2 separate regions of the Homo sapiens genome follow, and region 2 is linked to region 1. The links come from fine-mapping of genetic effects on gene expression. A gene starts in region 1. The other region holds a variant in brackets. All regions are shown on one strand. Distances are between the middles of the regions.

Region 1 (4,408 bases):
TCCCTAGCAAAATGCCTGGAATTTAGGATGTTAATAAGTATTATTGAATGAATATCATGTATCATTGCTAATATTTTAAAAAACATATCTACACTAATTTAATGAACATTTTCTACCCACAACTATAGGATATAAAATACAAATTGAAGTATACTGGTTCTTGATTATCTGGCGATCTGACCTCAAGAAAAACATTTAGCTTCTCCAGAGGGTCTTCGTTTATAAAATAAGAATGTTGAAGTAATTATCATCTAAGATCCATTTACAGCTCTGAAGTGCCAATCTTAAATATTACTTCAAGTAGATGAAGATGAAGAAAATTAGCATAATGAAGGAAGGCATTATATAAATTGGATTGTTCTGAGCTTCCTGATGAAATTCTGTCCAATTTTAAAGGAAAAGGAAATAGTTGACTTCAAAAAACTGTTTATAGTTTATCATTGAAAAATAATAGGTCTGCTGGTTTACCTCTGATTTGAAATGTCGTAAATTAATAGGTCTAGAGAGAGCTAACGTCATATTCAGAAATCAACCTTTGCAGACCTTCTGGTTGAAAAAGTATTTAATAAGCATGAAACTCTGGCTGGTTCCTTAATAATATTATTATTAACTATTTTGTCAACATCTGTTAAATGTTGGCTATGTGCTGGATGTGGTTGAGCCTGGAGCTAGGGTGTTACTGTCACTTTTGGGGAAGAGGCCATTTCAGAATTATGAAACCAACATTTTACCACATTTGAGTCATTTGCAATGTGCATTCTCTTACAGCTACCAAAATACTCCTGTGGAAAGAGGGCAACATTGCTTTCTCAAAGTTTTTACAATCTTTTAGATATAACCAAGGCAAGAAAAATTCCATCCTTGTTAATTAGCTAGCAGTGAACATAAGAAATCAGAACATTTAATAAATATTTAAAATGAACGAACAGAAAAATTCTTGAAGGAACATGTTTAAGAAAAAAATAGCCAGATACATGATTTGTAATCTCACTTTTACAAATATATCCAACACTAGTAAATACTCTTCTTTAGTTTTGCTTTGTGCTTTTCTAAGGAGTTTTATGGCCATTAGCTCATGCAACAATCAAGTGGAATAGCTGTTGGAGGGCCTCACTGACATTCCCCTAGGATAATGTATCTGACACTACCCAGAAAGTATTTCCCTTCTTTTTAGGTTTTCCAGCCAGCACTTGAAAAGACTGTATATGACACAGAGCCTACAAGAAAAGGAATGTGGCCACACCCTCTTTAAATGAAAAAAGTAATAAGCGGACCTTCTTATTTTAAATAGCATAAGCAAATATAACATATATTTTTAAATGTTTATTACAAAGAGCATGATTAGCACTTTGAGGTCTGAATCTATCTTGTTTTCCTTACAAAAGAAGAAAATAAATTATGAAAGTCCTACTATTTTGAAACAGTTCCCTGCAGCCCACTCCTATCACTTTTGTTCTTGCCCCCAAAAAGCAGCCCCCATCACGATTTCTCTGTAAAACACACAGCTCTTGGGAAGAAATATTTCAAGGGGAAGGAAAGGAAAAACACATTCTTTTAAGGCTACCAGAGGGAAAGCACATTCTTCCCTTCTTTCTCATGGTAACTTACCAAGAGTACAATGAGCCAGTATTAAGCAAACTTATCTTATTTTTACTTGTATTTGTTAACTAAGTAGAACAAAAATATTGTAATTTGTGATTCCTAAAATATAAATATCCAATGTAATTCTACAGAAAGATTTATGAATGACTTATCATGTTAAATGCAACTAACCATAAATCCTGTAGAAGCAGTAACATTTAACATAGTGATGAGAAAAGTTTTCAAAACAACCAAAACTAACTAAAAGGAAAACCAAGACTTACCTTTATCTCTACCTTCTTGCAAAGAACTAAAGAGAAATTCTTCTCTGAAGATTTCACACTGGCAGTGGAGACTTGGGCTTCTGATTTTATAGGATTTTAAAGGAAGCCACACCTAGCAACCAGAAGTTAGTAATTGGCTGCCTTCTGTTTGAAGTACATGGCTCAGCTATGTCCAAAAACAAAGTGAAACAAGTCTTGCAAAACTACTCACTAAACCAATTCAACTGGCATTACAAAGGAAAAGAAATGGAAGGGCTGATTTTTCCTCCCTCTTTATTTTGCACTTTTATTTCCAGATGGGATATTTATTTTGCACTTTTATTTTCAGAGTATACATCTGCCCCAATCCTAATACCAGTGATTGGCACACTTTTGTAGTTAAATAGGTTGTAGACTAAAAAGTATGTTACCTTCAAAACTAAACAAACCAACAAACAAAATATTACATTTGAATTCCACCTCCATCACTTATTATTCTGTGACTTTAGGGACATACTTAATTTTTCTGAACCTGTTTTTACTTTTGTTTTGTTGTCTTTTTCCCCCGCTTTTTGTGGAGAATGGGGTCTCGTTATATTGCCCAGGCAGGTCTCAAACTCCTGGGCTCAGGCTATCCTCCTGCCTCTGTCTCCCTAAGAGTTGGAATCACAGGCGTGAGCCACCATGCCTAGCTGTTTTTACTTTTGTATATAGGAGCATTATCTAAGTTGTCTACCCACTAGAATTCTTGTGACAATGGAGAAATAACATATATTTGTAAATTTTAACATTACACAGTGCCGAATAATTTTCTATTTATATTTTTCTTGCCTTAAAAAATAAACGACTTTTGTTCCTAGATATAGCTTGTTGTTATAAATAAGAAATATAGAAGTAATAAAGTTCCAGATTGGCTCAAAATTTTGAACAAAGGTAATGCCAAAAATTTGATCATTATGACATTCAATAAAAGCATTGACATCAGAAGGCCTATCTACATTAATTCTTTTAAATAGAGTCAGTTACATAGAACTATATATATAAACTGTAATATAGATCAGTTATATATACATTTTGATACACATCTTTGACATTGTAGACTAGTTGAACACCAAAACAAGGAACTAGACCTATAAAATGAAAGGATTAATGGAGCAGCAACTATTACAGAACACATTCCATAAGAAATTTCCCACCCAATGGAGGAAAATTGGTTCTGGTAACTTCCATAGTGGTTCATTTTCATTCTTCTTTAAACCCTACAAAGTATTATATGATGTTTCCATTAAAGTGCACAGGTGTAAAATCTCACAGCATTATGGCTCAATTTATGCTGCATTTAGTGGTTTGTTCTTTTTCCTCTTTTCCTCATAGATATTTCACATAAAAAACATGAAGTTTAGGAAGTTAATGAAAATACTTTCTAAAGATTGGCAGTATTTTATAATACATTCTAAGTGCTCGATGCCAATATCAATGAAGTCAACATATCCTGAAGTAGGATGATCATCTAATCTAAATATTTAAGAAAATGTCAATATATGTTTTTACTATCATATGTGTAAGTTGAAAATTAATTAGTTACCTGCTAACAAGTTAAGTTAATTGATATTATTGCAAATTGATCTTGACAGATGTAGACTAACTTTCTAATACCATATTTATGTCATCAGGTGAGAAGGAATAAGATGATTATACAAAATCTGGTTTTCTTTTTTTCTTTAATTTGCGTTTGTATTCCTAACTCTGGTAATGGAACTATTGGAACATTCCTGCACAGTGATGCTCTTGTGAAATGAAGAAAAAATTCCACTTACTTTTTATAAAATATAACAACCTAGAAAACATGTATAGTCTCATTTTGCTTTGTTGCTGCTATTACCAGTGCCATAAACTGAATGGAATTATTTTATATGTTTGGATTTGTAATACATAGGCAAACCTAAAATAGCAACAATAAATATGATAATTGTAGCAGAATTAAGAAAAAAAAAGTGAAAAGAATGTTTTTCCAAAATTAACTTCCAGCTGTAACACTAAAGGCAAGTGAAACTCCCAAACATAACACAAAAAGAAAGCCACTAATCATGTAGGTATATTGCTGTGAATAATCTGTCAGAATCTTTTTCTCCGCATAATAATAATGTCGAGTAGATTTATGGAAATAAAAGAACAAGTAAAATATGTTATCATTAACAGTGAGGGGATAATCATGGGTTAAATGCTTTCTGTGGGTGAAATGCCACATACTCCAGAGAAATGACTCACCACTCTTGCTGTTTCTAGAAGATGATGATTCATCGGCTCCACTTACTTTACAAACAGAGAAAATAAAGAAAGAGAAGGAAAGAAAAAAGACAGTTAAAATCAATCTCTATATGTTACGTTTTTCACAGCATGTTTATTTTCACTCATTTGGTTTAGAATCTGATAGTGAAGAGGAAACAAAACAAAACAAGGAGAGGAAATATGGAGTCTCTCACATACATCTCATTGTGCATAAGACTCTTGCAAAATATCTGATCTTAGTAAGCTGTCCCCTCATCCTTTACATTTAACTCTAT
Region 2 (4,408 bases), 130 kb before region 1:
ATAGCAGCAAGCACCACAGTGCACATAAAAGAAAGAACTGTTCCCAGACATTACCTACAGTAAAATCCTCTCTGAGTTCTTTTCCGGAAAGAAAGAAAGAAGCAACAAAAAGGATTAACCTAGTTGCATAAAGAGCAGTAAAGGACTCTGGCAATGCAGTTCGCGCTCGTAGGTTCGCATCACCAGTGAACAGAAGGCTTGCTTTACCGCTCCCTCAGGAGCACGTCTCTCATTGAGTCCACATGCTGTGAGTCCAAGGCACTGTTTCTCTCGCTATATTTGGCTGACTGGTTATTTTACTTTCTTTTTGCTCTACTCATCTTATTTTGTATCCCCCTGTGAGGTGAAAACAATCCAGATAGAACTAGACTATCATACAGGACTCGTTACTTAATTTTCTGTTTCTGAATAATTCATAAAGAAAATCTTATCAACTTGCCTTTCCTGTGAGGTTGCCACACATCCAGTTTCCCTCCACACAGTGTCTTCCTTCTAAAAACAAGATAGCTCTGGGTTCTGATACTCCTCTTGAGGGAGGGATGAATGCCAGGCTTGAGGGCTTATTAACAGAAGACTCTACTTTATCCAGGCTGTTCTGCTCAGAGGCTTGCAAACATCCCACACTTACTTCTCCCTCTACTCTACTGCATACCATAACCGGGCTACCCTCCCCTGTCCCATCTGTCAAGTCCTACCAACTCCTTGAGCCTGCCTAGGCACTGTGGCCCACCAGATGCTCTCATTCTTATAGCTCTTACTGTGATTTGTCTAGCTCACTTATTTGTCTTAGTTTCATATTACCACACTGTATTTCTTACCTGCTTATTAGTTTTAAACTCTGCCTTAAGTATCCAAATAGGTATGTCCTCCATCATTATAATAACCTAGTGTATTAGTTAGGGTTCTCTAGAGAAATAGAACCAATGGGATCGATCTCTCTCTCTATCATCTCTCTCTCTCTCTATCTGTTCTTATCTATCTATCTATCTATCTATCTATCTATCTATCTGTCTATCTACCTATCTAGAGGAACAGAGAGAAACACTGAGAGAAAGAGTAACTTTTAAAAATTGGCTCACATGACTTTGAAGACTTGGTAAATTCAAAACTTACAAAGTAGACTGGCAGGCTACAGACCACGGGAAACTCACTGTTTGAGTTCAGAGGCAGTCTCCTGGCATAAGTCTTTCTTGATGAGTGGAGGATGGTCTTTGTTCTATTAAGTCCTTCACCTGATGGAAGGAGGTGCAGCCACATTATGGAAGGTAATCTGCTTTACTCAAAGCCCATCAACTTAAATGTTAATCCCATCCAAGAAAACACCTTCATAGAAACATCTACAAGCATGTTTGACCAAACATCTGGGCACCATACAAAGCCAACTGGACCCATTAAATTAACCATCATTCATAGCAAATCTATTGTGTATAATAAGTTCTCAATGTATTGAATATATATACATATGAAGAAATGACCATTTGGGATTAATAAGCCAAATTCCTACAGGGTTGGTTACCAACCCATTTTTCTAGTCTCATAATCCACCATACTCTTCCTCACTTTCTCCTCCCCAATCACTGTGTATGCCTTGCTTCTTCCTGTGATGAGACTTTTGCATGGACTGTACCCATTGTACAGCTGCTCTTTCCTTCACTTTTTACCTAACTTATATTCACTCTTCATTTATTCATTGATTTTGCAAGGAAACATTA[T/C]CAGACTCTCCAGACGAATTTAGTTTCCTGAATCATATGTTCTCATAGTTACAGACTACAATATACCTCTCTTTCATGACTTTTAAGAAAGTAGTTTCATATTATTTGTTACACATTACTTGATTAATATCTGTCTTTTACACTTGACATTAAATTTTATGAAAACAGAGAGTATGTCCATTTTTGCCCACGTTTTGTCCAGATTCTAACAGTTTCTGGTGCATAGGAAGTAATCAATACATTTTTGTTAACTTCTGGCTAAATGAATTATTAGCCAGTGAGATTAATTTTGCTTCTCTTATAGAATGCTTCTAAAAAGGCAATTAGAAGCTACACAGTGTTAAAACAACCAGAACAAAACATGAGCAAAGTCAAGCTATAATTAATTCTCTATGCAAAAGGTTAAACAATCAGTATGTTATCTGCCTGAACTGCCTGGCTACATTGCTACAAGTACAGTTTCAGAATCCTAACACCTTCCAATATCAGATATAGACAACGCTTCAGTATCACCTTCCATTAATTAACAAACATGGAGATTATGCTATTTTGAGAGAGAGGGAGATTTCTTAAATTCAATGTTATTGACCACAAACCTAGAGTCTTCCAGAGATCTGTTGCTCACTGATATATAACTGATTAGTAATGTATGAGTAAATATTTTAGACTGAAAATAAGTATCTCTTTTAAGGTTAGAAAATCTGATTATAATCCTACTCAATTTTAAAATTCTCTTTGAGTACTTGAAATTGTAGAAATTAGCCCTAGAAACGTTTGAGTTACATAAAAATTTTACATCAGTTTCAACCTGTCAGTATCTTTTTTTAATTTTTTTTTTTTGCCCCTTATCAGGATTGTTGACTTTCTCTAAATTTTGCCTCCTTAAGAGTTGAGAATGCTTAGATTTGCCCACTCCAAACATACTAGTTGTTATAATTTCACATAAAAGGTAAAGTAGAATAATTAAAATATTTCAGTGTTTCACTCTAATATTTGTATAATCCCTCCTGTCTCAATGTTTTGTTCTTTTACCCAGGTTTTACTTCAGGTATCTGTTTTACTGCTATAGTTAATCTGATCACTTATTTTTGTATGTCTTTATTTCTTCATTTGTAAAGTGAAAATGATAAAAATGTCATAACCCACAAGACTATTTTGAAAATCAAGTAAAACACTGTACCTATACATCTCTTAACTGAAAAGTACATGGTAAATCACAGTGTGATTATTATATATTAAAATATTTAAATAATCCATTTGATATATGATTGTCCAACCTAATAACTATCAATAAGCCTAAATATAAACAAAATTTAAAATTGTTATGCCTAAAGTATCAGGCTAATTATCATCACATAACCCTTCTCCTTTAAATTCTTCTTCATCTTAAATATGGACTGTTTTACCTCAATGAATATTTCTTAAAAACAAATTAATGTATAGCTGATCAATAATAGAAAATTAAGTCAGAATAACAACAGGTTGACCTAATCCATATGCAACATTCCCAAGCATGTTAATATTTTGCCCCAATTAATAACTTCAGCTGAAAACAAACTATACTAACACACCAAAAAATAGGGAGCCAGGCTGAAGGAACACAGTACAAAGTAGACACCCTGCCATCAGTCAGTTTAGCCAAATAAACAGACAGTGAAGACTTTAAGTGGGTTTTCACCATTGCATAGATATTGCTAAGCAGAAAATTTCTTCATGCACTTCTGAAATCTAATGCCCTTGTGTCTCATCTAAGAGTTAGTCAATTTTTTAACTTATATTTTATTCTATTTAAACAACCCATTCAACAAACCCTACTAGTCATTCTGCAAACTTAGTGCTAATAGCCATGCAGTTGAGTACCAAAAGCCTAGTCTTTAGAAGTAGGTAGACTTGAGTGCAAACTTTGGTTCCACCCACTCACCAGCTGACCAATCTTGGGTGAATCTCTAACTTTTAGATGCCGCCGCCATTTGTTCACCTATGAAATTGAGTTAATAACATTATCTTCCCTTGGTTCACTGTGAGAATTAAATGACATGAGTTTTGTAAAACACGATGGAACCTAAGTACTGCAGTTTAAATTATTGTTGAGACAGAGTCAATATTAACAGCGTGTGTAGTTACTTTGCTGTTAGTAAGTTGATACCCAGTTTCTAGTCTGACTTTTTCTATGTAACATAAAGTATTGGTACATTTTAGGTCATGAAAATAAATGTCCCACCTCTGTGTGAACAAAATTCAATGGATTGATTTTCATTCTATTTTGCCCAGTGTTAAATAAAATTTTGACCTCAATTATTTGCATATCATCTGCATATTCTAATCGAAAGTATTGCATGATCTGGATTGCCATCCTAGATAATTATCTCAGCTCTTTGCTTCACATTTGTGTTTAGCCTTAACATCTCAACCTTCCTTGCCACATTTATGTCGTTAATTGTGATTATGTTCAACTATGTATTACTGATATTAAAAGCACCAAACAGCAGATATCATTATCTTCAAGGAGATCCCAAAGCTTCTCCCAACCTGATGCTTAAATCTAAACCACTCAGCATGTTTGGCAAAATACTCACAACACAGCTATCTGTTTTTGGAATAAGTGCCCCTCTCCATTCTACTTAATTGAAAACAACTCTAAATTGCCCTCCTGAGCATAAAGAACCAGGGATTAAGACATAGTAGCGGAAAAGTAT

What was found. PIP is the estimated chance that this variant, and not a neighbour inherited with it, causes the effect.
Region 2: its variant is fine-mapped to the expression of ANXA1 in whole blood (INTERVAL, PIP 0.98).

Annotation. Positions count from the first base shown.
Region 1 is chr9:73,149,382-73,153,789 of GRCh38, reverse strand. ANXA1 (annexin A1) reads right to left here and starts at 1,925. Exons shown (of 13, transcript NM_000700.3): 1 at 1,866-1,925. RefSeq lists a cis regulatory region at 3,967-4,217.
Region 2 is chr9:73,280,361-73,284,768 of GRCh38, reverse strand. The region is part of intron 1 of LOC101927281 (a long non-coding RNA gene); the gene reads right to left. Among named protein-coding and RNA genes, the nearest start is that of ANXA1, 130 kb to the right of the region's middle. The variant T/C (reference allele first, on the strand shown) is at 1,713.